4 linked regions of the Homo sapiens genome follow. The protein of the gene in region 4 purifies or fractionates together with the protein of the main gene of each other region. This does not show direct contact. Each region holds a gene or a part of one and is shown on either strand. Other genes may lie near its edges.

The links.
Region 1: the proteins of DNAAF8 (region 4) and GNPAT purify together in Homo sapiens (affinity purification with mass spectrometry; 2 studies listed by BioGRID and IntAct, with this or other methods). This does not show direct contact.
Region 2: the proteins of DNAAF8 (region 4) and TNIP2 purify together in Homo sapiens (affinity purification with mass spectrometry; 2 studies listed by BioGRID and IntAct, with this or other methods). This does not show direct contact.
Region 3: the proteins of DNAAF8 (region 4) and PKNOX2 purify together in Homo sapiens (affinity purification with mass spectrometry; 2 studies listed by BioGRID and IntAct, with this or other methods). This does not show direct contact.

What each region holds. Positions count from the first base shown.
Region 1 is NC_000001.11:231,272,095-231,278,514, reverse strand, and holds the end of GNPAT (dihydroxyacetone phosphate acyltransferase), read right to left. Parts: intron 6,204-6,420; coding exon 6,124-6,203; intron 4,594-6,123; coding exon 4,453-4,593; intron 3,295-4,452; coding exon 3,195-3,294; intron 3,111-3,194; coding exon 3,017-3,110; intron 2,381-3,016; coding exon 2,319-2,380; intron 1,017-2,318; coding exon 973-1,016; 3' UTR 542-972; downstream 1-541. UniProt on the Homo sapiens protein: Dihydroxyacetonephosphate acyltransferase catalyzing the first step in the biosynthesis of plasmalogens, a subset of phospholipids that differ from other glycerolipids by having an alkyl chain attached through a vinyl ether linkage at the sn-1 position of the glycerol backbone, and which unique physical properties have an impact on various aspects of cell signaling and membrane biology.
Region 2 is NC_000004.12:2,753,228-2,760,866, forward strand, and holds the start of TNIP2 (TNFAIP3-interacting protein 2), read right to left. Parts: upstream 3,110-7,639; 5' UTR 3,063-3,109; coding exon 2,787-3,062; exon of another isoform or gene 2,722-2,786; intron 1-2,721. UniProt on the Homo sapiens protein: Inhibits NF-kappa-B activation by blocking the interaction of RIPK1 with its downstream effector NEMO/IKBKG.
Region 3 is NC_000011.10:125,426,626-125,433,783, reverse strand, and holds the end of PKNOX2 (homeobox protein PKNOX2), read right to left. Parts: intron 4,773-7,158; coding exon 4,696-4,772; intron 3,822-4,695; coding exon 3,643-3,821; intron 2,619-3,642; coding exon 2,392-2,618; 3' UTR 395-2,391; downstream 1-394.
Region 4 is NC_000016.10:4,729,754-4,737,610, reverse strand, and holds the start of DNAAF8 (dynein axonemal assembly factor 8), read right to left. Parts: upstream 3,075-7,857; 5' UTR 2,913-3,074; intron 2,654-2,912; exon of another isoform or gene 2,465-2,653; coding exon of another isoform or gene 2,447-2,464; intron 1,148-2,446; coding exon of another isoform or gene 1,097-1,147; coding exon 968-1,096; intron 1-967. Other genes in the region: ANKS3 (ankyrin repeat and SAM domain-containing protein 3), read left to right, coding at 3,640-3,673, 7,460-7,631. UniProt on the Homo sapiens protein: In cyliated cells, dynein axonemal particle-specific protein required for deployment of ODA to the axoneme. Interacts with outer dynein arm (ODA) subunits.

The sequences.
Region 1 (6,420 bases), on a different chromosome or scaffold from region 4:
AACCTACTATGCAAGTACCTTGATCTGGGACTTTCAGTCTCCACAAATGTGAGAAAATAGGTCTGTGTTTAAGCTGCCTAAGCTGTGTTTAAGCTGTTGTGTTATGGCACCCTGAAACTGACTAATGCGCCTGCCTCTGTCTTCAATTTCACTATCTGTGACTCTTGTTCCAGCCATGTTGATCTTTTGGGAGCTCTGGAACCTGCCCCAGGACGTCCTGATCACTATTTTCTCCTGGCACACTGCACTCCACTGTCCCTTCCTCCGTCACTCCAACCCTGCCACTCTAGGGGCTGGCTCCTGCTCAATCCAGTTCTCAGCTTACATGTCACTTCCAGAGGTGGCTACTTGCCAAGGTTTCTGGTGTTACCTACTTACTCTAAATTTCTCTTCTCTTGAATTCTTACACATATTTATGGTGCATCACACAGCATCTTTTTGTTGCACATACTTGACTAATTCATTTTTGTTAATTAAGGCCCTAGGGTGGCCAACATTTAAAGTAAGCTAGCTAATTTATTAAATATCTCTTTCAAATTTGTACTTGTTTGAGGCAACTTTAATTAAAGCAAGCTACAAGTAACGTAGATATGCCCTTTTCATTTTCTTTTAATATCCAGAGCTTTCAGTGTTGTCATACTTTAATTCAAAAGTCAACATAAAAGTTTAATACATATAGTAAGCTGAAAAGTGTTAGTGAAATGAGCTGAGCTTTGCTTTTCCAAACATGTTTCCAAAAGTTTATTTTAAAACACACACATAGTGTCAGATACAAACGCCTTTTAACCACTGTGGTGGGGAAGAGTAAACTGATTGCTTCCAATGATCATCTCTTCCCTCTGCGTCCACTGTTCTCAGAGTCTCAGGGAGTATGAGAGGATGTGTCTCTTCCTTTACTTCCCTGTTTGTTGTAATGAGTCCTTCGATGAGAGTAATTACGTGACCGAATTTTCCATAACTATTTGTTGATTATTAAAGTTTTGCAGTGGCTGGTTTTCCTATTGGTGTCTTACAACCTAAGATGAAAAAAGAGAAGCAGCTCATGAAATGATGCTGATTTTGCCCTTCCTCATACAGCTGTTCCTTGGGCGACTGTCCAGGGGAGAAGCTGGAGACTTGTGCAGAGCTTCACAGGCTGGCCAGTACCCATGGGGACGCCAGCCCCCTCCACAAGGGAAGCGGTAGATGCTCCAAGAGGTGACAGCATGGCCAGAGCCACAGGGCCAGGGCCAGGAGTTGAACCCCGTCATGTTTTCTGAACTCCAGTCCAGTATGTTCACGCTCACATCACATCTGCTTTCCGTGATTAAGTAATTGATTCCGTCACCCTCACAGGGCGAGGTGTTTGTGGTTGTTTTAGGTATATGCACCTCTTCAGACACGATATAAATAGAAGACTGGGATTTCGACCTACATATTTTTTTCTACAAGGTCTAGTACTTCCGCCTTCCCGATATGCAACAACTACCCCACTGCCCTTCTACCCTTTTCTTCATCCATTCTCCTTTTCCGTATGCCCCATTCTGGTCTTCCGCAAATCCCAACAGACATTTATCTAAAGCTCTTCCATGCAGGTTTGACGAGGTACTGAATTAAGATTAGGTACAAAAACAGTACTTGGAAGACGATCCACTCAAGGACATCACGCCATTCAATATAATCAGCAGATTATTTTTTCCAAATGTTAACACCCTCCTTTCTAAAATGGCCGCATCATTGCTAGGAAAAGTGTTCTTGACCCCCTCTGATTGTACCTCTGTTTATGTCAACACTCAAGGACTCTTATGTCAAGGAAGACAACACTCAAGGACTCTTTTTGGACTAGACTATTTCTTCATAGCTGATAGGCTCTAGAGAAGAGTAAGGGTTGGATTATTCTCCCAAGGATGTGCTATCAGCCCTAATTCTGAGTTCAGAAAGTCTACATGATAGAGACACTGACACTAATCTCTCACTTGGGAAAGAAGCAATGCAAGACAGACAGTGAGAGCATCAAACAAAGAGTGGAGATGAGGTACTCTCTCTGAGGCAAGGATGTGAAGGGTCTGGGCCTCTGGCTGAGACCAGTCATGTTAGGGACTGACTCTTTCTACTGTGTAAGACTGCTTCTTTTATGCCTGCTGTGTTTTGTTAATTTTCTTTGTGCTTTCTCGTTAGCTTCCTTGAGAAAATTCCAGACTGCATAAGTAATTCCCTTTTATGTTAGAACTCTACTACTTACTGATCATTTTGATAAAGTATTTGGTGCCACAGTATACTTTCTTATTTTAATTCATCAACAAAATGTGAAAACTTGTATTTTATTAAACTGCACTTACCAAGCATTTCTTCTAATTTGGTTGTGGCAGGTTCATTCACATTAAATATACAGTTATTATTTCTAGGAGAAAATAATAAGCTTTATTATTACATAAACTCTGGGGAAAAGACAACTTTTATATTTTGTTCCTGACGTAGCTATTGTAAGACTACTTTTCAATTGCCTTCCTCAAGGCTGGGCCTAAGTAGTCGAAAGGCCTCAGGCTCCTGTCCCACCTCCTGGCTTCTTGCTTCATTCTTCTGACCACATAAGAGACATGACTGCCAGAGTTTACTATTAAGCTTTATCACTGTTAAATTCAACCACTTAGAAGAACATACATCTATATGTTTATATATACATATACAGGTATGTATCTATATATGTATTATGTGTGTATTTATGTGTGTCTACACTCATATGCCCACTACACTCCCGAAAATCTTTCTTGTAATTATAAATTTCAACATTAAGTCAAAGCAAAAATATTGGCCTAAAGTTATTTCTTCCTTTCTTTGCTTCAGTTGCATTTCTATTCATAACCACATACAATTTTCAGGATAACTCACACTGACTTAACTAATTAGAGGATGGATAAGGAAAGTAGAATATAGCATTTCCTAGATCATCCATTTCTATGTCTCTCTGGATTTTGAGCTCAAATGTCATTCATTTCCTTGTTCCTTGAGCACTCATGGGATCTTGTACAGTACTTACATCTTCTTCTTCTCCACTACTCCGAGCCTCACACAGGCTGCTAAGGCGTTTTTCTGCACATCAGAAGATAATACATCATAACATTGAGAGGTACCTAAAATTGGGGGTGAGGAAGAGTTAGTTGACCAGTTTCTATTCTCAACTAAAAGAAATCAGCACCCACAGAGCAGTGACTGACCTTGATCGAGAAGCTGACTTGTGAATTTTCTGACTGCAGCCAAGTACTGTTCCTCACTGAAGTGGTCCTCTTCTTCACTCAAAAGGTACTTGCAAATTATCTGATTTTAAGAGGAAGGATGAGGGGAACAGAAAGAGAAAAAGGATAGCCAAGTTCAACAGAATAGTAAATAACTTTACATTGCCCCTCTTAAGAGAAGGATATATCACAAGAGAGCAGCATAAAGACCCTCCAAGGAATGAGCCCAGAAAAACCAAAGAATTTTTAGGGCATCTCCTTTGAGTTTACATTTTACAATTAGAAAAAGATTTAAAATAATAATGACATTTATTAAAGTATAATTTCTCACTTCAAGGGGTACAAGTTAATTACCATCAGCTTCGTATCTCTTATGCTACTTGGGAAGAGAGGGGTCAGATTTTAATAACTTTGCTTTTTTTCTCTAAATACACCTAAGAAAGTACCATGCCCTAAAATACTTGATGATTTCTACTGTAGAACAGTGATTAAGGGTAGAACTAGCATTTATCAAATGCTCAGTAAGTGCTAGACTTTGTGCAAGGAGGCTGAATGAGTTATTTCACGGACCACAAGCACCAGGAAGTGGGTCCAGGTGCCCAGAGCCAGTGCATGTATTATATGAACAGAGCCGAGTCACAGCATCCTCTTCTCTCAAGCATGTGGAAGTCCTTCCTACAGTTTATGTTTCAGACTCTTTCTCTCCCGTTGAGTCCTGCCACAATTCCTGCTGGGCAACATACCATCCCATCTCTCTAACTACTCCCAAGAGCTCTGACAAACGCTTTCAGAACTTGCACTTGAACTTTTTCTTTCCAACATAAACATCTGGTAATCTGTAACTGACTTTATGTATCACTCAAGTCTTGCCTTTACTGAGTGCCTGATATATATCAAACCTCGAGGTTACATATTGACTGACATGAAGGCCTCATTAAGACATGAGACACAGTATGACAGATGATGCGTGGGTGTAACTGTGGTCCTGTGAATACTGTGACCATGGCATCACTAAGCTGTTGTCCTCTTGGGTCTGTAATGAACCAAGCTTCCTCCTGAATGCGGGGAGCAAGGTCTCACTGGTGAGGTGAAATCACTGATCGTATTAGTCACTCTCTCTCCTTCTTCCATTTGCCTGGGGAAGATACCTGCCCTTCAGACTGGAAATAAGCACAGGGTGAGAATGTCTTATTATATTTGATATGGGGGGCATGAAGGAGAACTTGCCAAATTTACATACCTGATAGCTTTCCACAAAAGGTTTAAAGAGTCCTACTAAAAATTCTAACACAGTATTTCCTTTCTCTGTAACTAGGATGTCTTTCGTAGTCACTTGTATGGCTTCACTTTTACAAAGCAGGTAACAGCCTTCTTCAAAGTCCTAGAAGGGAAGAGGAAGCCATAATGTTCATCTAGGTTAATGGGTATAGTGCCCATCTGAATACATGTACCCCCTCATCTAGGTTAATGGATACACTGCCTATCTGAATATATGCAGCCACATGCCCTCAGACAACAGAATACCAGCTATTTCCCCAACCTCCAGAACAATTCTGGTTGTGAGATAGTAGCCAGAGAAGCATCTGCTCTACATTCAAAATGTTTTCAAACACAACATTTCTGAGCCTTACAAATCACAACCTGGGTGATGGATTTTCTTTTACTTTGCAGAACCACTCCTTAATTTAAATAGGAAATACATACAGCAAGTCCTAAAAATACTTAGAATTATGCTATGGTTAAAAAATTTCTGGCTGGGCGCGGTGGCTCACGCCTGTAATCCCAGCACTTTGAGAGGCTGAGGCGGGCGGATCATGAAGTCAGGAGATCGAGACCATCCTGGCTAACACAGTGAAACCCCGTCTCTACTAAAAATATAAAAAATTAGCCGGGCGTAGTGGTGGGCGCCTGTAGTCCCTGCTACTTGGGAGGCTGAGGCAGGAGAATGGAGTGAACCCGGGAGGCAGAGCTTGCAGTGAGCTGAGATTGCGCCACTGCACTCTAGCCTGAGCGACAGAGCCAGACTCCACCTCAAAAAAAAAAAAAAAAAAAAAGTTTCCAACACTCCTGTTCCACTCCCTACAGAATCAAACCTCTTATCCTTAAAGCACACAAACACCTAACATGCCTCTCATCTACTGTCACTTCCCACTTCAACCCAGCAGCAGTCCAGCTCTGCGAGCCTGATGACCCCTCAGCTGTCTAGACCAGGCAGGACCAGCACTCACTACTCTCAAAGTAAAAGGCACTTGCCTGGGTGACTCATTCTAACAACTTGCTAACAGGAAAATGTGTGCTGATTTTGTTGTGTTTGGTTTCTTTTTTTTTGAGATGGAGTCTTCCTCTTGTCACCAGGCTGGAGTGCAGTGGCACAATCTTGGCTCACAGCAACCTCCACCTCCCGGGTTCAAGTGATTCTCCTGCCTCAGCCTCAGCCTCCTGAGTAGCTGGGACTACAGGCATGCGCCACCACGCCCAGCTAATTTTTGTATTTTTAGTACAGACGGGGTTTCACCATGTTGGCCAGGATGGTCTCGATCTCTTGACCTCGTGATCCGCCTGCCTCGGCCTCCCAAAGTGCTGGGATTACAGGCATGAGCCACTGCGCCCGGCTGTGTGCTGATTTTTAAACGTTTACTAAAATAAAGTTAGTTTAGTTGTAATGGCCACACTGATAGTTCAAAGAATGACTCTCCTCTCACCATATAATCCCTAAGTTATTAATTAAACTTGATCAAGAATCAAACTAGAGTCTGCTGAACTGTGAGCGCCCCAGTTTCTCTTGAAGTCTGCCCCACTTTGCCTTGAAGAAAGGGATGGCACACTGCCTGAGACACATCTGTGAATTCACCCCTAACATTTCTAGAACTCACACTGCAAACATACTTGCTCTTTGTTGTAAGCACTTTACCTTTAGTGTGTTTCCTGGAAGGAAGATGAACTCATCTGCAAAAACATCACGTAGGAAGCGAAAGCAACTGTAGACATCCTCTGGAAATAAATGCATCATGTAAAATTACAACATTGCCCTTTAAACTTTAAGGGAGTACCAGGAAGTCCTTACTATCACAAAATGTATTTCAAAGGCATATTTTATTCATGTAACAGGGACAAGAATTAAGTCCCCTGAGGGAAGCTAAATTAAACCCAAATCTTACCCACAGAGCAAACTACGGTCTAGCATAGTTTGTTTTTTGTTTTTTGAGAT
Region 2 (7,639 bases), on a different chromosome or scaffold from region 4:
AAGGAGTTCTAGACCAGCCTGGGCGACACAGCAAGATCCCGTCTCTACAAAAAAAAAATAAAATTAGCCAGGTGTGATGGCACACTCCTGTGGTCCCAGCTATATGGGAGGCTGAGGCAGGAGGATCACGTAAGCCCAGGAGGTTGAGGCCACAGTGAGCCATGTTTGTGCCACTGCACTCCAGCCTGGGTAACAGAGTGAGACCCTGTCTCAAAAAAATAAAAAAATAAAAATCCCAAAACAAAACCTACATGCTTACATGTTGGGAAGACAGGACCAGGGCCAGTAATACTGGGAACACAGAACTAATTCTATCTGAGGCTACCAGGAAGCTGCAATAAGCTGCTTGGTGAGTGGCCAGATACACAGGACACCAGGGAACACATGTGAGCGGAACACCAATGGCCACCGACTGCAAGTATACTGCTCTGGTTGTGAGGTCCCTGCATCCTGTCCCACCAACATTCTGGAGATGACTTCGGAGTGTCCTTCCGGGTCCTTGGTCTGTACTCATCTGTGGCTCCTGGCATCCACAACTCTAAAACCTGTTGGTGCAGACCAGGTGACCTCTAAACTTCCCTTCTGCTCTAGTGAGTCAGGATGTACCTTCCAGAAAGAGGGAGAGAGTGGAGTAGGGGAGACACTGGCTGCTGAAAGTATTTTAAATGATGTAGATACTGACAACCTAATATTAAGTACAACTGTATACACAGCATGAAAACAACCATGCCAAGTGTACACACACCTTATACACAGAGGAAAAACAGGAAGAAGGCATGCCAAGAGATTAACACTAGTCATCCCTGCACTGTGGGACTACAGCGGCTATTTTATTCTTTATTTTTCAGATATTCAAAATTGTTTTATAATTTTTTTTCTTTTTTAAAAAGGGCATGTTTCTTTTTCTCTCTAAAATCAGGCTGTGGGGCCAACCCTGGAGACAAAAACTATCTTTCGCAGACTACTGCCTTTGCAGGCTTAGTTTCTTTCCTGGGCAAACTAGGATAATAGCCATGAATCAAATGGAATAATAGATGCCAGAGCTCACCCGAATGTTTCAGATGCTTGCAAATACTATTGCACAAAAAAACTGTTACTTATACTGCTGTTGTGGTGTTATAGTTTATCATCAAAAAACAGACATAAACATCATAGACAAGGACAAAGAGAAGAAAGTCAGGATTTGCGTCTTTTTTTGTTTGTTTTTGAGACGGAGTCTCGCTCTGTCGCCCAGGCTGGAGTGCAGTGGCACAATCTCGGCTCACTGCAAGCTCCGCCGCCCGGGTTCATGCCATTCTCCTGCCTCCGCCTCCCAAGTAGCTGGGACTACAGGCGCCCGCCACCACGCCCAGCTAATTTTTTGTATTTTTAGTAGAGATGGGTTTTCACCATGTTAGCCAGGATGGTCTCAATCTCCTGACCTCGTGATCCGCCGCCTTGGCCTCCCAAAGTGCTGGGATTACAGGCATGAGCCACCGCGTCCGGACCCTTGTGTCCATTTTTAATTTAATTTTTTCAGACAAGGTCTCACTTTGTCACCCAGGTTGGAGTGCAGTGGTGCGATCTTGGCTCACTGCAACCTCTGCCTCCCAGGCTCAAGTGATCCTCCCACCTAAGTCTCCCTAGTGGCTGGGAGCACGGGCACGTGCCACCATGCCCGGCTAATTTTTTGCACTTTTTGTAGACAGGGTTTCACCATGTTGCTCAGCCTTGTCTCGAACTCCTGGGCTCAGGCAATCTGCCCGCCTTGCCTCCGAAAGTACTGGGATTACAGGCGTGAGCCACTGCACCCAGCCTAGGATTTGTGTCCTTTATCAGACACGGGCTGCATTTGCCATTGCTCCCAGCATAGAGTTGAAGCGCCACTAGTGAAAGACACATGCATGGGTGAGGGCTGGAAGGGACTCTAGAACACAATATGAGTACACGACCTTGGACCCAAGACACACATGTGTGCGTACACACACACACCATACACACCCCTCAGAATGTGTCTCCCGCACACACACCTCAAAACACCCCTAAGAACCAACCGGAACATACACACTACACAATACACACAGAATACACACAGCATACACACACCCCCCTCGGAATGTGTTCCCACACACGAACCTCAAAATACCCCTAAGAGCCCACCTGAACATACACCACACACACACAGAACCCAAGAACTGCACCAACCCCCCTCCTCAGAACCCAGTGCCTCCTCACCATCCCCCAGGACCCAGTGCCCTCCCAACCCCCCAGGATCCAGCATTCGCTTATCCCCTTCAGAACCTTGCACCCTCACCCCGCAGGACCCAGAGCCCCCTCACCTCCACCAGCACCTGGTGACGCCTCAAACCCCCCAGGACCCAGCACACCTCAGCCCGTGGTGTCCCCTTATCCCACTCAGGACCTGGTCCCCCTCTCTCCCCTAGGACCCAGGGTCCCCTCACCCCCCAGAAGCTGTTGCCCTATCACCCCCAGGACCCGACGGCCCCTTACCCCCAGGACCTAGTGTCCCTCAACCCCAGGACCCGGCACCCCCTCAACCCCCAGGACCTGATGCTCCCCCAACCCCTCAGGAGCCGGGGCCCCCTCACCCCCAGGACCCGGCACCCCCTCAACTCCCAGGACCTGGTGCTCCCCCAACCCCTCAGGACCCGAGGCCAACTCAACCCCAGGACCCAGTACCCCCTCAACCCCTCAGGACCCGGGGCCCGCTCGCTCACCCACCCAGGACCCGGCGGCCGCCACACGCACTCTCGCTCCCGCAGCTCCTCTGGTACCCGCCCTCGTACCTGGCGCATCTGGGCCTCGGCGGCGCCGCCCTCCTGCCTTCGCAGCTGCTCCCGGAAGCGCGCAACCTGCTCCAGCAGCGCGTCCACTAGGGACGGCGCGGCGTCCCCCTCCAGCGCGGCCAGGCGGGCGCGGAGGCGAGCGATGAGGGCGTCGCGGGCAGCGAGCTGGTCCTGCAGGCGGCGCAGCCGCTGTCCGGCCTCGTGGTACAGGGTGCAGAGCGCGGCAGCTGCGCGCGGGGCCTCCTCCCAGCCGCCCGACCCCGGGTCCCGGGACATGGCTGTAGGCCCGCCCGGGAGGCCGCGCGGCCGCCGGCAACTTCCGCGCCCGGGCCCCGCCGGCTGCCGCCCTTCCCGGAACTTTCCCCGGTGCGCCCCGCCCACCCACAACAGCCCGGCCCCGCCCTCCCCCACGCAGCCCCGCCCCCCGCGCAGCCCCGCCCTTCCCCGCGCAGCCCCGCCCGACGGCAGCCCGCCCAGCCCCTTCTCGCCCGGCCCCACCCCTCCCACCGCCTACAGCCCGGCCCCGCCCCTGCCGTCCGCACCCGTCCGGGAGAGTTGGCCTGGCCCCCGAGGCTGTCCACACCCCAGCTGGTGCTGGGCTTATTCCAGTGGCCCCAAACATCCGCCTCTGAGGAGTTGTCGGAGAGTCGAACTCAGCCCAGGAGTTTGGGGATTCATCAGCCTCTGATGGAAAGGAAGGGCTTAACGACAACCCCCAAGCTCTGGAGCTAAGTGTGGGTCTGAATCTCCCCGCGAGGGTCCAGGCCTTGCGGCCACAGCAGCAACAGAAGCTCCAGGAGCTGAGCTCGCAGCGCACCAAGCACGTGGCATGTGTTCCGTCACCTGGGGACACTGAGCCCAGAAAGAGCTCCAACCCCCTGCCCCGCACGCCGCTTTCTTTTTTCTTTCCTTTTTTTTCTTCTTTTTGAGACGGAGTTTCGCTCTGTTGCCCAGGCTGGAGTGTAATGGCGCGATCTCGGCTCACTACAACCTCCGCCTCCCAGTTTCAAGCGATTCTCCTGCCTCAGCCTCCTGAGTAGCTGGGATTACAGGCGCCCGCCACCATGCCCTGCTAATTTTTTGGTATTATTAGTAGAGATGGTGTTTCACCATGTTGGCCAGGCTGGTCTTGAACTCCTGACCTCAGGTAGATCCACCGGCCTCAGCCTCCCAAAGTGCTGGGATTACAGGCGTCAGCCACTGCAGACGCTGCTTTGTAAGGTGGCTAGTATGGGCCCACGGGACAACCTTCCTGCTAGATGCTGTTCTTATATAGCAGAAGCAGCAGGAAACCAGCCCCTTCCCACCCTTTCGCTTTTCCATCCCTTTCCTTCCCCAAAATTCCCAGACAAACGCTAGTGTTTTTCCACAGCCCAGTCTTCCCCACAATGATGCCCAAGCACACATGGGGTCTTTCCAAGGTTCCCTACTCAGGATAGGGCAGGGGTCTTCCCTGTGTGTGCACTTGCCCACAGGCTCCGCCCCTGAGCAGCTTCTTGACTTTCTTCCCTTATGTGATCCACAGCCAAGCCTGAGCTGAGCCTGGGAAAACACAAGCTTGTAGAATCAGACAAGCCTATAAGCAAAGCCAGAGCCACCCAAGTGCTTATGGCCCGGACATTGGGCTACACAGGCCTGGCTTTGCTATGGAAGGCTCCTTCTTACTCATCAGAGCCTGGGCTTCCTCTCAGCAGAAGGAAGGGCAGAGCGAGTGCCCACCCTACCTGGTTGGGCTGTTGTGGGGACTAGAGGGTGGAGTGTGCATGGAATGCTTGTCCAGTGCAGTGGCTGCTGCACAGCAAGCCTACAGTCCCCATGGCTATGGTTACAAACAATGCCTATTGATTGTCTGGGGCATGAGTGGAAAAAACAAAACTGGACCCAGAGCTGTTAGAGGCTAATGTGTGGCCTGGGGCACGTCATTCCAGTGACCTACCTTGAGCCTCTGCCTCAACTGTAAAAGGTGCATGTGACAATCCACAGTCTCTCATCCAACAACAGCCTTGGGGTCAGGTGTGGTGTATTGTATTGTATTGTACTGTACTGTATCGTATTGATTTATTTTAGACGGAGTCTCAATCTGTCGCCCAGGCTGGAGTGCAGTGGTGTGATTTTTGGCTCATTGCAACCTCCGCCTCCCAGGTTCAAGTGATTCTCCCACCTCAGCCTCCCAATTAGCTGGGATTACAGGCGCCCGCCACCACGCCTGGCTAATTTTTTGTATTTTAGTAGAGACGGGGTTTCACCATATTGGTCAGGCTGGTCTCGAACTCCCGGCCTCAAGTGATCCGCCTGCCTCGGCCTCCCAAAGTGCTGGGATTGTAGGCGTGAGCCACCACGCCAGGCCGCCATGTGTATTTTAGAAATGAGGATCTTTGGATTTCAAATAGGTACATATAACTGGGGGAGCCAGCTTTCAAAGAGGATCCCCTCCTTCCAATATCCATGCTCCTGTGTAGTCCCCTCCAATCCACTGGAGAGGGCTGACCTGGGTAACTAAGAGGGTACTGCAGAAATGATGGAGTGTGACTTCTGCAGCTAGCTCCCACAAGACATCACGGCTACTGCCTTGCCCTCTTTCGGAGCATTCTCTCTGGGGGAAGCCACCCACCCTATCATCAAGTAACCCTGTGAAGAGGTCCATGTGGCAAGGAACTGAGGCTTCATGGCAGCAGCCGGCGCCCACTTGCCCACTGTGGTGAAGAAGCCACTTTGGGACTGTATCCTCCGACCCTAGTCAAGCCTTCAGAAGACAGTAGCCCCCACTGACATACTGACTGTGACTCCATGGAAGACCCCGGGCCAGGACCGCCCAGCTAAACTGCTCTGAGTCCCTGACCACAGAAACTGGATGAGATAATATATGCTTATTGTTTTAAGCTACTAACATTTGGGATAGTTTGTTCTGCAGCAATGGAAAATGAACAGCTAAAATCTGACTTAGTGCTCCCACTGGGACATGGTACAGCACCACAAAACCAGACAGATTACAATTTCTGCAAAGACAGGGTGACCATTCAGACTGCGAGATGAATGAAGATCAGAAAAAGCCTTGTAGCTGTTGAAGTCAGATTTTGTACCACCTTTAAGAAAAACATTTTGGGGCCAGGTGCAGTGGCTCATGCCTGTAATCCCAGCACTTAGGGAGGCCAAGGCAGGAGGATCTCTTGAGCCCAGAAGTTGGAGCCCAGCCTGGGCAACATAGCAAAACCCCATCTCTACAAAAAGTTAAAAGAAACTAGGTGGGTGTGATGGTGTGTGCCAGTAGTCCCAGATACTCAGGAGGCTGAGATAGGATTGCTTGAGGCAGGGGTTTGAGGCTGCAGTAAATGGTGATTGTGCCACTGCTCTCCAGCCTGGGCCACACAGTGAGACCCTGTCTCTGAGAAAAAAAAGAAAGAAAGAAAACTATTTTGGGTTTCTGAGCTTTTTAGATTTCAGAATTGCGGATGAGGGATCCCAGACCTCCAAGAACACTTGTCTTAGAGGGTGTTGTAAATATTCAGTAAGGTCACATGGGAAGTGCCCAGCATGCTCTTGCCTTCAATGCAAATTTAGGTACTGGGCCAGGCACTGGGGACTCATGTGTGGACATTGTAATAGTGGAGACAGATCCTTTTCCAAAACAAGAATAATTGCAACGTAAGGAAATTTTGTGTAAGGAAAGGAAGGGGAAAATGTGTATAAGAAAACAACAGGCTGGGTGCGGTGGCTCACACCTGTAATCCCAGCACTTTGGGAGACCAAGGCAGGCAGGACTCCTGAGGTCAGGAGTTCGAGACCACTCTGGCCAACATGGTGAAACCCTGTCTCTACTAAAAATACAAAAATTAGCCAGGCATGGTGGCGGGTGCCTGTAACCCCAGCTAGTCGGGAGGCTGAGGCAGGAGAATCGCTTGAACCCGGGAGGCAGAGGTTGCAGTGAGCCAAGATAGCGCCATTGCACTCCATCCTGGGTGACACAGCGAGACTCCCTCTCAAAAAAAAAAAAAAAAAAAAAAAAAAGGAGGAACCTAACTTTAAAGAGGGTGATTAGAGACAAGATAACAGTCCAGCTCTGCAACCTAAAGGGTGAGAAGGAGCCAGGCATGAGAGTTGGCTGAGTGAGTTCACAACTGGGTATGGCCTAGAGTTGGGCAGGAGCTGATACAGGGAGCAATTTCTTTCTTTTCCTTCCCTCCCTCCCTCCCTCCCTCTTTCTTTCCGCATTCTCTTTCTTTGTTTCTTTCGAGACAGCATTTCACTCTGTCACTCAAGCTGGAGTGCAATGCTGCGATCTCAGCTGCAACCTCTGCCTCCTGGGTTCAAGTGATTCTCCTTCCTCAGCCTCCTGAGTAGCTGGGATTACAGGCACGTGCCACCATGCCTGGTTAATTTTTGTATTTTTAGTAGAGATGGGGTTTCACCATGTTGGCCAGGCTGGTATCAAACTCCTGACTTCAAGTGATCTGCCTGCCTTGGCCTCCCAAAATGCTGGGATTACAGGCGTGAGCCACCGCGCCCAGCCAGCATTCACTTTCTGTGTTCTGAAACTCATCTAGATTTGTGCAGGATGGGGCTAGTGCAGCAGGCCTAGTGTGTTCAACCCTGCATGTTCCAAAAAAGGGACTGGCCCTAGACCTTTTGGAATATCCCACCTGATAAGAGTGTCTTTGCTTATGTGGGGGCCTTGGACCACACCAGCTAGTCTAAGCTAACTTGAGGCCTTGGGTCATGAGCTTGAGCTCTGAAGGAGCTGGAGACCGAGTAACTCAGGTCAGCCATATGGGCACTCCCCGCCTATGTGATCAACCCCTAACCACAGCTCTGGACACAAAGTCTCAGGTGAGCTTCCCAGTTTGGCAACACTCCCA
Region 3 (7,158 bases), on a different chromosome or scaffold from region 4:
GGGATTATGGTGCTGATCCCTGGGATTCAAGGCCGGGAATGGAGACAGGAAAGCAAAAGCCTTTGAGGGAGGTGGAGTATGGTGGACAAGAGGGACCAGATTCATAGCTTCCGCTGCGGTCGGGGAAGCTGTCAGGAGAGGGCAGTGCAGAGCTTCCTTGCCTTCTCTCCCTAGCTCTGCCTTACAACCGGCCGCACACAAGGTGAGTGTGCTGAAATTGGCTCTTCCTCCCCAGACAGGGCAGCTGAGCTCACGCAGGACGCACATCTACCTTGTCCCCTTCCCTGGGTAGTCAGGTGTATACTGAGGCCTCCAAATTTTGTCTGGCCTCTGGTCCCATGAAAAGAGCAAAGGATTGCCACAGCAACCACAGAAAGAGAATTGTGCACCAGGGTTACGGTAGGTAATAAGATTTACTGAAAACGTCTCGGCCACATTCAGTACTGGTTTGGTGGATACATCAGAAGGAGGTTGCATAACATTAGGCAGGTGGAGGGGCTGAGAGGAAGAGATGTGGGCACCTGTGTGCCAGTGTGTCCGTGCTGGGGGACGCCTGTCCAGGTGGTGAGTGGAACGGTGTGTGTGTGTGTCTGTGTGCGCGTGTTAACAAGAAAAACGAACCAGAAAAGGAAATGCATTTTATCCCACTGCACATTGCAAAAGTCTCACGCCAAAAAAGCTAGACTTTCCTCTATGTATGGCATCAAAAGGGAGTAAAAAATGATTGGATCACCCAGATTATAAATAAGGTTATTTGTTTCTCAAAAATCCTTATTAAAACATTAAATATCAGCTCTTTTGGGGGAGAAATACATTCATTTCAGGGAGACCTCGGAAGAGTGACCATCCTTTTGCTCTACCCCAACCAGGTGGGGGAGGGGAAGCCCCAGAGGGCCCAAGGGGTCCCCTCCAGTTGAGCCAGGTAGCCACTCACATCCTGCCACTGAAGGAGGTGGCCAATGCACAATTTACAAATGAAACTGCACGTCCATTAAATTAAACCCAATGGAAAACACACGTGTGACCTGTCCTGTCATTCACAGCCATGGGGTGAGAGGGAACCGGAGGAGAGGGTGCCAACCAAGGGGGTCTGGAAGGTGGGTGGGAGGGTATGTGTTAGGGTGGACAGTGGAGAGCCTCCTCCTCCTTCCAGGAGCCCCAGTTCCTCCAGGGCTGTGGATAGCAGGGTTAGAACAGCTGGGTGGGGTGTGTGGGATGGGCATCCCCGCAGGCTCTTGGGTGCCATTCTCTGGGCCCTCCCCCACATTTAGGATATTGATGGGAAGAGGGATGTAGCACCTTCTCCAACCCCTGGCTTCCCACTGGACTAGATGCTTTCCAATGTTTCTTCTGCCTTCCCTGAAGGACAGAATGAAGAAAGGAAGCTGGAGGCTGATGGAGCCAGGCTGGGAGCAAAGGGATGGCCGTGGCGACCTGCGGGCTGGAAAGATTCCCAGATAACCTGGTTTCACCTTCTCTGAAGGTCTATGGAGGGCGTGGAGCACTGAAGGTGGGAACATCTAGGGTAAAAAACCATTGTCCTGTTGTTAAAGGAGCTAAGTTCTGTGATCACCTAGGGACAGCTGTGGCCTCAAAGTCACCTCCATATGGTTCCTAGCCCAGGGTCTGCCATCTCCTTGGCTCTTGGAGTCAACCCAGAAGGGACTCCTCTTAACCTCCCACAGGTTGAGCCCACCAGCTTACAGTTGGTTTCCAGGAGAGAGTGAAGGGCACTGTGGCTCCCATCCCTTTCTCCCATGTCCATGGTTGCTGTGCGCAGAGACAGGGCCTTGGAGGGATGAGCTGGAGCCTGGTGGATTCCATCCCATTCTGATCTGCAAGATGTGATGCCTCAGGCCCTCCCACTCCTCTGGCCACTGGTTATGCTTTGGGGCTCCCTCCTGCCCTTGAATGTCTGTCAAAGGAGCTGAGAAACTTCTGGGGATGAAACTCAGTCCCCCTTTGTCTCTCCCCTTCCTTCTAAGTCTGCCCCCGGGCAAAGGCCTACTCTGCGAACAGCACCAATCTGCCTCAGTGCAGGGCTTGTAAACAACTCAAGTCCTTCCGTGGGTGGGGGCCATGGGTGCCATCTATCCTCAGGGATTTGGTGAGTCCAGATCTCACTCCTGTCTTTCCACACAGGCTGCTCGACTGGCCCCGCCAAACAGAGTCCTCGGCAGTTCCAGGGAAGTGGGGCTGGGGTCCTCATTGAAGCTCGGTGGTTGGGAAGGAACAGGTGTCTCCTTTGCCTTTCTTCAAGCTACTGATTTGGGGAAGCTAGGGCCCAACTCCCTCGGTGCTTCCTGCCCATGTCCCCTTCCCCCCCACCCTGAAGGCCTCCCGGCGACACTCCTCTCCTGCTCAGTGATCAGTGCCATCTGGGCTGCCCGACTACTCCAGGGAGTCACTGTGTTCCAAGCCCAGGTCGCTGACATTTGTCGTCTGCAGCTCGTCGACCTCCTCCTCCAGCTCCTCCTCCTCCTCCTCTTCCATCTCATCCTCATCCTCTTCTTCTGTCCCATCCAATGAGTCATCGTGTGCAGCCATCATAGCCTGCTGCATGGCCATGGTGGCACTGTCTGAGGACAGGGACTGCAGGTTGTCCAAGTTGATGGAACCTGCGAGAGAAAGCAAGGGTCAGGACGAGGCAGGGGCTGCTGGTCAGGGCCAGCACCTCTGTGTTGGACAGGGTTTAATGGACTGGCTCATAGAGCAGTGAACTCCTTGTTTTTAGAGCTGTCCAAGCCTGAGCTGGACAATGCCCTGGTATGAAGTCTCCCATCCATTCACTAGTCAGCTACTCCCTGCCCCATCTCAGGAAGCAGCACTCCCAGCCACCGTTCACTGCACATTTTCTTTATGTGTTGGCCACTTTTGACTTTCTAACAATTCTGTAAGGCAGGTATTATTATCCCCATTCTGTCTCAGACAGTTAAGTCATTAGCTCAAGATGACATTGTCAGCGATGACAGAGTTGGAATTTTCTCCCAGGCTGGTCCAGCCCCCTAAATCTGTTTTTTTTTTTCCCATCATAACCCATAAGATGGCTCATCACAAAGGAACCTGTGCACAACCATACACATACACGTGTGCATGAGGTTATGTGTGCACACACGCACACCTACGCTCCACTCCCCATACAGAGCTATCTTCATATGCCAAGCTATAAAATGCTTGGCTCATTGAATTATTCATTGTGCACTAGGCGACTGGCAATTAGAAAAGTGTATATGGAGGGTGTGATGGAGAGGCTGGGAAAACAGAGCTCTTCCTGGCCCCTGTTCACGAGCCAGCTGCCTGCCTTGATATTTATAGATGGCCTTGGCTCCTGAAGAGCTGTGCAGATACTTACTGGTGCTAAGGAACTCAGATGGGTGCGGACATGGGGGGCTCTGCTGAGCAGTCACTGACTTGCGTGACCACCAACTCCCGCTTTTCTTTATGAGAGTGCATCTGGTCTGTTAAATTATGTACAAAAACATCCCCTTCTTTAGGGCTTTGGGGAGGGATAATCACTGTGGCATGGCAGCGATGGGAGCCCAGGTAAGGAGATAGCCCTTGAATCTTTGCACGGCTTGACCTGAAGAAGCTCCAGGAGCACCCCCAGCCCTTGTCTAGGGTGCACTCAGCCCCAGTTCTTACCATCGGGGTTTGTCCCTGGGGCACCGCCCTGCTGCTGCAGCACCCCCGCAGCGATGGAGTTGGGCCAGAATCTTTGGGTGGGCCGGTGCTGAGACTTGATCTTCTTGGCTTTGGGGGCAGGATCTGGGTTGCTGGCATCAAGCATGGGCTGCAGGATGCGCCTCCGGGCATTGATGAACCTGCCCAGAGGTAAAGTGGAGACCTGGTTAGTCATCACCTGCATGGCCTTGGGGTGGGGGCAGGGAGGGTGAAGCTGCCTTCAGACTCCATTTCACAGAGCAGACCGGGGTTCCCATCCCGGATGTAAAAGCCCAGCAAGGAGGAGGGCCCTGGGTGCTGAGAAGTTCATGAAATTTCCTGGGGCTTGGTAACTGCAAAGTCATATGGGAAGAATGCATGGGGGGTCAGAAATCCCTGCTCAAGACCTTCCAGGTTGAACGGAGGAGGAGAGCATGGTAGTCATAGGCACTAACCTCTGACTTCTCTCCAGAGAGCCAAGGGCTCGGATCAGGGCCCTCAGCTCTGGGGTCTACTTCCATCCAGCCAGACCTTGCTCTCTGAGCTCCCCTGACAGCCCAGCCAGGCACAGAGACTGGGAAAGCTGAGATCCCTGTGGGGTCAGAATGGCTACTCCTCCTCCCTCTCCCCACTCCCAGCTTTGCAGCTAGTTTTAGTCTCAGTTCACATGGGGGTGGGGAAGACCAGATGACCACTGGCCTCCGGTGCACAGCTGCGGGCAATCCTGTCTGTCTCTGAAGTGCAGGTGGGCTGGGTGCTCAGGTGGGCGTGGGTTTTCTCTTCCTCAAGAAGCTTCCAGGGATGTGCCTGACACAATGTCCCAGCAGAGGGCGCTGAGAAGCTGCAGATGAAGCCACAGGTGCCAGTGTTGATTCTTGCTTTCTGCTTCTAGCCTAAATGGGGGGACTGGCATGGTAGCTGGGCTGAGATTGAGGCAGATCCTGGCATTCGAGTCTCTTTTCCCTGCTACGCATTCCCCTGCCCAGAAGGTGGCCCCTGGATCTGGGAGCCTGCATGCAGGTGATGCAAACTCACCAGTTGTTTACTTGCAGGAGGGTGAGGTTGGTCTGGGCTGCGATCTGCCTCTTCTCATCCTCCGTGGGGTAGGGGTGCTGAAACGAGAGGTGGAGACTAGTGAGGGCTGGGCATATGCTGATCTGGCCCCCCCAAGGGACTGTGCCCACGCCATGGGCACTATCCTGAGCCAGGCAGCCCGAGTGGTTTGGGAACCAAAATTGGGGAAGTGTCATGTTTGCTCCCCACAGAGAATGGACCTAGGGCTTGGAGGAAGGTTGCCCCATGCCCGAGACTCCACATCCCGGGCTGGCCAGTCCTCAGCCAAGCCCCCACAATGGGGAGCCAGGGAGGTTTCCCAAGACCAAGATGGTTCAGTACTGACAGCTTCCAAGGCACATCCTTCTCACTTGATCCTCACTGCCGCCCCCAGCAGGCAGGGCAGGCATTGTCAGTGTTAGGGTTTCCAATGGCCTCAAACGCCCATAGAAGGTGGTAGGCGGGGTGAATGGATCAATTTAAGTTAACTGCTATTTACTGAATATCTACTATGTGCCCAGATTTATGCTAGGCATGGCTAGGAGACAGAAGAGTACTACTTGTATAGTGCTTTATAACCTGTAAAATGCTTTCATGCATTTTATTCATTAAAAAATCATCATTTTATTTAATAAAGCACATCATTGAAACTCTGAAAGGCAGGCAGGTTAGGTATTGTTATTCCCACTTTGCAGATGAAGAGATGGAATGACTCCTCCAGTGTCCCCCAGATGGTAGCACCAGCTCAGGTCTTCCGATTTGGGTCCAGTCTTTCTTCCATTGCTTCATGATGCCACTTTATAGGACTGAGTGGAGGTGAGAAAGAGAGCAGGGCAGGTGTCTCTCTCAGTCCCCCACATGCTGCAGCCCGTGCACTGACTACGCATCTGTCTCCCTCTCTCAGACTGTGCTTCATGACGGCACTGGGATACTGAATGTATCCCCAGTGCCTTCCACATACAAATGACATACAAATGCCTGCTGAGTGAAGGAAAGCAAAAGCACAGCACTCAATGCTGTGGTTTGGGTGATGAGCCCTGTAGAGGCTAAGAAGGAGAGAAATGCAGTGGTGGGGAAGACTGAACAGGTCACATTAAAGAATGAGAAGGCTCTGGGTGGCAGTGGGAAGAGAGTCGTGACCCCATTGGGAGGGAGGCCACAGGATGGCTGAGTCTATGCATCCCTAGGACTTGTTCAGGCCACAGCCCTGTGCCTGGCACCCAGCATGCAATTAAGGTGTGGCGAACGTCTGAATAAGTCAGAGTTTTGTCCTGGAAGCTAGGGGAGGTTTGGGGGCTCTTATGGCAGAAGATCAAGCCATCCAGCATCCTCAGGCTAAAATCATTCCTTTTGATTGGAGTGGTATTAGAAAGTGGTGCTTGAGCTGTCTAAGGTCCCCGAGATGGGAGGTCTCAAAATCTGGCTCTATTATGACTAGCTATGAAATCTCAGGCACGTCACCTAACTACACATCAGCAAGTCATCTGACAAATAAATGAAATTATACTTGTAAAATGCTCAATAAAAGGTACGAATACTCTTATTATCAGGGGGTGTTACAAGGTGCTTAGAACTTTCTGAGGGAAAAGGCTGCGGTCAGCAGCCTTGGTGGTACTCGCATTATCGGTGGAAAAGGAGGAGCAGCCTCTCCCCTACCTCAGCATCCCCCAGATGAAGCCATCAGGACCATGTGTTGCTTTAATTCAAACCTCTGACCCTGACCACCATGCCAAGGCAGCTGGGACTTGTGATTCATACGGTATTAAGATTCTAACAAGAAAGTAGGCACATCAGCATTACAGGAGCCAATTTTCATTCTAATTGGGAAGGAGCGGAGGCAGGATGGGAGGAGAGGGTGCAGATGGCCCCAGGGGGCAGAGAGGCAAGGACTCTGGGAGCTCTGACACCTTCTGGGGTCAAGCCCTAGTGCCTGGCTCCAACCTCCCTATTTGTGGGAAAGAGCCAAGCAGCCTCCCTGTCCATAGCCAGCTGGTCTGTAGACAAAAAGCAGCAAAAATATGGTGATTTTTTGGCCTTCCCAGGTGCAAGGGCCTTTCATGCCTCCATGCCTTCGCACGTGCTGGCCCTCCTCTGGAGCGCGCTTCCTCCTGCCTGTCCTCGCGTGCCTTTCTGAGCTTCTGTGAGGGCCTGCCACAGATCACAGCCTCTGCAAGGCCCTTCCCGACTCCCTGAGGCAAAGCTGGTCACCGTGGCCTCTGAATGATTGCTTTTCGCCCACTAGATGGCAAGACATGTGTCCCCCACTAGGCCATGAGCTTCTCTCAGGCAGGGACCCCATCTCATTAGACATTGTTTATTTCCAGTGTGCAGACCAGGCACAGTGTGCAGACAGGCAAAGAGGCCAACGTTGAAGGATTGTGTAGTGAACTGAGGAATGAACTAGCACAATAAGGAGACGCAGACTTGTTTCTTGAGCAGAGCTAG
Region 4 (7,857 bases):
GGCTTCTTGCCACCGTTTAGAAATGGGCTTGGCAGCACAACCTCGTGGAGGTGAGACTGGGGCTCCTGGTTCTGCAAGTACCTCGCATACAGCAGGTGCTTCATTAATGCCTCGTGACATGAACAGGGCAGTGAGGTGGTAGCTGAAAGAGCAGGGTCCAGCCCTCCCCATCCCCTGTGACCCTGAGCCATCACTTACACAGCTTAGTTTGTCTTCTTGAAGGGGTTGGGGCTCATACTCTCAAATGAGACTGAAGGTGTGAAAACACCCTGAGCACTGAGGCGTGGGGTCCCCTTAGGTTCTCCTTAGCCTCGTCATGCACTGGATGACGTCTGAGGTCCCTGAAGCTCTGTTGCTGGTGCCCAGGTAGGACCCAAACCCTGCCCGTTCCTTTTAAAACCCTCATACTGTCTCTTAACGCCCAGTGCCAACCTGTGCACTGAGCAGCCCCCGCCAGGAGCATCTTTAGCAGGGTCTTATGCCTGCACCTAGGGCTATTGGTCTGAGCGTCTTTGAGAGCCATTTCAGGGACCCCAAACCACAAATGCAGAATCCCTCGAAGGCTTATCACAATGCACTGGAATTGTGCATTCTCAGTGGGTGTTCTGGCCCTGTCCTGGCACGAGAGAGTGGAGAATAGCAGAATGGAAAGGACAGAGCTTCTGCATCAAATTGACCTGGGTTCCAAGTCAGCACCAAAAACTCCACTGAAAGGGTCTCCCAAGATGCTGAGCACCAATACCCATGCTCAGAGATGACAATCAAGGCAGAAGAAAGAGTAAAGAAGGAAATAGGCACCCAGAAAACACAACTTTGAGTCTGGCCATGCGATTTAAAGTAAAATGACAACAAACTGCACAGGTCAGCAGGAAAAGTCTTCAGAGAAGTGCTCCAAAGCTGTCCTGGCCAGCGTCATGCCTGCTCTGGTAGGAAGGACAAGGCATCCAGGGAGAGAGTTCTTGCTTACCAAAGGGGAGTCTGAGTCCAGAGACGGGAGCTGGTCTTTGACAGCCTTGAGGATGGCATCCCAGGGCCCCATCTGGGAGGCCCAGGGAGAGCCCAGCGAGGGTGCCATGCCTTTATCGTTGGATGCCATGAGGGCCCAGGCTTCCAGATGCCTTCTCAGTGCACCATAATCCGGGGAGCTCTGTGGGGTACACAGGGTGATGGAAGAGGGTCCGGGCCACTGAAGGTCAGGAGAGCAGGGGCTGCTCTACCAGCTGTAGGAGACCAAACAGGCTGGCAGGCCTCACCACCTGCCTCAGTTTCCTTCTAGTTATGCAAGCTCCTGTTAGTGCCAGGCACTGTGTGTGTACGTGTGTGTGTGTGTTCCCACTCATGCACACATGTGGAGCCTGCAGGTATATAATGTATATAGTGATATATACATAATAATATACAAATATATGTATTGATATAAATATACCTATGTAGATATATGTACATGTTATATAGAATGCCATATGTACGATATATAATGATATATAGGTATATTTTATATATACCCCATATAGCATAACTATTCTCTTCATTTCATAGGCTCAGGGTGTTTAGTAAATAGCAACAGTGGACTCTGAATCAGGGGGAATTTCAAGTCCTACTACCCTTTACTGCCCTTTACCAAGGAACAGAAGACACCTTGCTTTTTTGTTTTGGAGACAGGGTCTGGCTTTGTCGCCCAGGCTAGAGTGCAGTGGTACAATGATAGCTCACTGAAGCCTCGGCCTCCTGAGCTCAAGTGATCCTCCCACCTCAGCCTCCTGAATAACTGGGACTACAGGTGTGTACCACCACATCTGGCTAACATTTTTATTTTTTGTAGAGATGGAGTCTCCCTGTTGCCCAGGCTGGTCTCAAACTCCTGGCCTCAAGTGATCCTCTTGCCTCAGCCTCCCAAAGTGCTGGGATTACAGGCATGTGCCATCGCGCCTGGCTGACAGTTTGGAGTCACTAAGTGATTTTTTTTTTTTTTTGGAGTCACTACTCTGACCAGCCCCTGCATTTATATCTTAGAGTCTTAAAGGAGATGGTCCTGTTATTCAGGGGGCTGGGGAGCTTGAGCTTGAGAGCTGGGGGGTGAGGGTCCTCTAGAGCCAGTGTCAGGAGAACTCTGCAGCTCGAGAGGCCGCTGTGGCTTTGGCCCTGCAGTCAGTGCCCGTTCATCCCCAATCAGGGCAGCGGCAGGAGATGTGAATTGGGGGCTGCTTGCTTCCTCTGTACTTCTGGGAATAGGGCAGGTGCTTGGTGCACTCTGAACTGGGAGCAGCGGGTTGGGGACGCATCTGGTGCACACAGCCAGCGGGTGTTTTTTGTAACTAGAGCTCTGTTCCGCAATTCAGGGCACAGTATTTCTTAGGGCAACAGAATCGTCGGGATGAAGAGGGCCTCCAGAGACTCTGATAAACCCTTCAGGCGGACAAGACAATAGGGGAGGGAACGGCATTACCGGCAGAAGGAAGAGCATGTACAGTAGCTCAAAGGAATGAACCGCCCAACAGGTTTAAGGGAAGAAAGTGTCAGTTGCTGGACTCTCCGGTGAAAACGGACCAGACAATGCAGGGCCCTGAACGCCAAGTTGAGGAGCTCAGAGCATCCAGAAGGCGAAGGGGAGGCTCGGAGCCGCCTCTGAATAACGGCCTTCCGGCTCCGTCTCGGGGTGGGTTTCTCAGCTGCAGCCTGTTAGCCCCGCCACAGCCCCGCCCCGGTTCTCAGAGCCCCGCCCCCAGCCGGCCTGCCACGAGGCTGCCGGTTGTTATGGCAACCAGACGCCAACAGCCTCCCGGGTCGAGCTTTTAAATTTTAAAGCTGTGGAAGTGGAAAGCCCATCGCTCCTCCTCTCACCCACCCCCAGCCCGTATTTCCCCGCGTTTTGTTCAACTCCCTGCAGGCGCAGCAGGCCCGAGGCCCCTCACCTCAGGCCTCTGCCTCCACTCCCCGCGCTGTCCTGACAGCGCTATAAACAGCCTCCAGCGCGTCACTCCGCTCGCGTCCGCCCCTCGGGCCGCGCCGCAGGTACAGAGGCTGTCCCCTTCTTCAGCACTCTCCCTCTCAGCGGAGCTTTACATTACTAGACTGCCTCCGCCTTCCCCCCACCCCGCCCAGCTCCTCTTTCGGGCCTTTGCGCGTCCTGCCTCTCCTGCAATGGGATTGGTTCCCCTGGAGGGCGGGGACGGAGCAGGACAAACACCACTAGCTCATTGGCTACCGCGGGCATCAGACAGCGAGCCGGGAAGCTGACCGGAAGGTCCGGGTGCGGGACGTGTGCATTCCACGGCGCCCGGGAGCTGTCCCGGTGCCGACCCGCGAGCTTCCCGGCGTGCTCCGCGCCCTCCCGCAACTACTTCCGGGGCGGGTGCCGGGGGCGGTGCCCCGGCGAGGGAGCGTGGCGGCGAGCTGTTTGGGGGGGGTTGGCGACGGCAGCCCGAGGGCGGCGCAAGGCCTGAGGCCCAGCACAGGTGGGTTCCGCGGCGGCCCGGCCCCAGCACTTGCCGGCACCTGCAGCCCGCCTAGACCCGGCGCTCGGGCGTCCCGCGCTGCACTTGCTCGCCGCGTGACTGGAGGACCGAGCCCCCACATTTTCTTTATGTGGTTGTGGTGGGGGCACAGTAATGCCCTGTGCGCCGTAGCGTTCCTGTGGGGATGTGGCCGGGGGGCGTCGGGAAGCGTCACTGCTGTGAGTTACGGGTTTGTCGGCCAGGGACCCGCCCCGGGGCCAGTGAGCTACCTTTGCGATGCGGTTCCACGGGGCGAGAGGGGGTGCCTGGGTGCTTTCACAGACCTCCTCTGTGGGCGTGACAGTTACCACCAGCATCACATTTGTTAAGATTTTTAAAAATTTTTTAATTTTTGTGGGTACGTAGTAGGTGTATATATTTATGGCGTATATGAGAGATTTTGATACAGGCATGCAGTTCGTAATAATCACATGTAAAATGGGGGTCTCCATCCCTTCAAGCATTTATCCTTTGTGTTACAAACAATATGATTATACTCTTTGAATTATTTTTAAATGTGCAGCCGGGCGCGGTGGCTCACTCACGCCTGTAATCCTAGCACTTTGGGAGGCAAAGGCGGGCGGATCACCTGAAGTCAAGGATTTGAGACCAGCCTGGCCAACATGGGGACACTTCGTCTCTACTAAACATACGAAAACTAGGCTGGCATGGTGGCTCATACCTGTAATCTCAGCTACTCGGGAAGCTGAGGCAGGAGAATCGCTTGAACCCAGGAGGCGGAGGTTGCATTGAGCCGAGATCACGCCGCTGCACTCTAGCCTGGGTAACAGAGTGAGATTATGTCTCAAAAAAAATAATAATAAATAAATAAAATGTGCAATTAGATTATATTGACTATAGTCACCCTGTTGTGCGGTCAAATACTAGATCTTTTTTTTTTTTTTTTTTTTTTTGAGACGGAGTCTCGCTTTGTCGCCCAGGCTGGAGTGCAGTGGCTTGATCAAATACTAGATCTTATTCATTCTGTTTTTTTTGTATCCATTAAGCATCCCCACCCTCCACTACCCTTCCCAGCCTTGGTTACACTAGAAGTAACCATCCTTCTACTTTCTATGTCCATGAGTTCAGTTGTTTTGATTTTTAGATAACCACAAATAATTGAGAACATGCAATATTTATCTTTCTGTGCCTGGCTTATTTCACTAAACATAACGATCTCCGCTTCCATCCATGTTTTTGCAAATGATAGGATCTCATTCTTTTTTTATGGCTGAATAGTACTCCATTGTGTCTAAGTACCACATTTTCTTTAGGATTCACTGTAAAGGTAACAGATACTTAGCATTTTCAGAATGGACAGAACCAAAAAGTTGAATGAAAACTAAAACGTCTTATCTCTAATGCTACTTTACACCACACCACTCGGGATGGGACATTTTAGTTTTCACTTTAGTGTTTTTTTTTTGTTTTTTTTTTTGAGACAGAATTTCGCTCTGTTGCCCAGGCTGGAGTGCAGTGGCTTGAGCTCGGCTCACTGCAATCGCCTCCCAGGCTCAAGCGATTCTCTTGCCTCAGCCTCCTGAGTACTGAGACTACAGGCGCCCACCACCACACCCAGCTAATTTTTGTAATTTTAGTAAAGATGGGAGTTCACCATTTTGGCCAGGGTGGTCTCGAACTCCTGGCCTCAAGTGGTCCGTCACGCTTGGTCTGGTTCTCATTGTCCTTCAGACCTCTGGGGATGTCAGATATGCAAGTCTCCAGTAAATAGAGAACACGGCCTCACCCTGCAGGAGGCCTTTGGCGTGGAAGAGACATGCCCAGTGAAGGCTTGAGGGAGGTATGGAAGGGACTCTGAACTGACCCTCAGCTCGTTTGGTTTCTTATCCAGGCTTCGTTGGCCAGGGCTGTTAGGGTGGGATTCTCACCTGCAAAGTGAGGGAAGGGCACTGCACGATCTTGGGCTCTGCTAGCTGAAGAGGTGGTGGCTCCAGGAAGGAGGGCTTTGCTTGCCCCACCGCACCTACACACACTCTTCACCAAGGGTCTGTGAAGTGTTCGTCTCCCACATTGGTGGCTTGTTTCTTTAGCCATCTTGGCTGTCACCTGGGGCTTGGAAGCATTCTTTAATAGAAACTGAGGTCCTCATCGCATCTATTAACTACCATAGCACCTGTAGGTCATCACAACCTGACAAGGCCTTTGTTTTCGCCTTTGCTCCCTTTCCTACCCTTGTTTCCTGGCACTCTTGTACCTAAGGATTCTACTAGGAAGCTGATGACCTTGCCTTGATTTGGGGATTCCTGGTGTGCCGTTACCCATGTAGGCCCATCTCGGGGAAAGTGTTACCTCACCAGTTCACCGGCCTGTTATATTTCCCCCCATAGCTCTCTCTTCAAAGGATGCCTAAGTGGATTCCTATTCAGTTGACGGTTGCTGCGTGCCACCAGTCACATCCTGGTTTGTCTGTTGGGGAATTGCTTTCTATTTTTTTCAGAAAAATTTATTTTTACTTTTTTGAAATTTTCAATTTCATAACCATTCCAGAAAAATTAATTTATATTTAAAATTTACAGGCCAGGTGCAGTGGCTCACGCCTATATTTCCAGGACTTTGAGAGGCTGAGGCGGGCGGATCACCTGAGGTGAGGAGTTCGAGACCAGCCTGGCCAACATGGTGAAACCCCCGTCTCTACTAAAAATACAAAAATTAGCCTAACATGATGGCGCACACCTGTAATCTCAGCTATTCAGGTGGCTGAGGCTCAAGAAGCCCTTAAACCCAGGAGGCAGAGGTTCCAGTGAGCTGAAATCATGCCACTGCACTCCAGCCTGGGCAACAGAGCGAGACTGTCTCAAAAAAATAAATAAAATTTACATACAGTAAAATTCATTTTGGTGTTCAGTTCTGTGGTTTCATAAAGGCATGGAGTCACAGATCCACCGTCACAGTCATACAGGTCTATCGTCCCCCAAATTCCCTCTCTGCCCCAACCTCCAACCCTTTAATTTTGCCTTTTCCAGAATGTCATGTAAGTGAAATTATACTGTAGGCAGGCTTCTTCCATTTAGCGTAAATCATTTGAAATTCATTCACGTGTTGCATGTCAACTGTTGGATCCTTGTGTTTAATGCTGAGTAGCATCCATTATATGGATGTGCCACCGTTTGTTTATCCATTCTTTTATGTATCATAATAGCAGCCTTTTTAGATATGTCCCCGTTAGACAGTGAGGCACTAGGGATTGGAGTTGCTAAGTAGCAGAGCTGCTTTTTTGTTGTTTTTTTTTTTTGTTTTGTTTTTGGAGACAAAGTCTTGCTCTGTTTCCCAGGCTGGAGTGCAATGGCGTGATCTTGGCTCACCGCAACCTCCGCCTCCTCAGTTCAAGTGATGCTCCTACCTCAGCCTCCCGAGTAGCTGGCCTTCATGCCCAGCTAATTTTTGTATTTTTAGTAGAGACAGGATTTCACCATGTTGGCCAGGCTGGTCTTGAACTCTTGACCTCAAGTGATCTGCCCACCTTGGCCTCCCAAAGTGCTGGGATTACAGGTGTGAGCCACCGCACCGGGTCCAAGCTGAATTTTGATCAAACCCCAAATCCAGGGTTCTTCCCCACCACATCAAGGAACTGATTGGGTTAAACAACCCAATTAGCATTTCTTCACTGCCCATCCAAGAGGTTGTCAGGTTCCTAGAGTTGGTGGAGAATTCTCTTTTACCTGGTGCCTGCGGTTGGAAGGAGGAGCAGGTACTCCACAGTTAATGCCTCACCATATGTGCTCCTCTTTACTGGTGTGATAGCAGGCTCACCAGATTTAGCATGGTTGGGACTGCCCAAAGCATACATTATTTCAGCAAATAAATTTGTCTGAGTTACTCCCGGGGTTGACTGCACTGGGTTATCAGTCTGCTAGTGCAGTGGTGTAGCAGGGGCAGGACCAGCCTGTTTCATGCCCTGGAACAACCAGCCAGGAAAGATCTAACCCTTGGGCCTTCCTCCTCAGTGATGTCCGAGCTCAGCGATGAAGCCAGCGAGCCGGAACTCCTGAACCGCAGCTTGTCCATGTGGCACGGGCTCGGGACACAGGTCAGCGGGGAGGAGCTGGATGTCCCCCTGGATCTTCACACAGCTGCTTCCATTGGCCAGTATGAAGTGGTGAAGGAGTGTGTGCAGCGGTAAGAGATCTCGGGGAACTTCCTCTCACATTTTGAGCAGCGCAGTGATGGCTTCGATCCCACGTGATGGGGCTTTGCACACAGTTGTGGATGTTTAATGCGTGTAGAATAGGTTAACCTGCTTATCTCAGGCAGCTGTCAGTAAGTATTGATGCTGAGCCCTGACAAAGAGGCCGTTTTTATTCCTAGGAAGAAAAAGAGGGAGTAAACTTTGATCAGAAGCTTA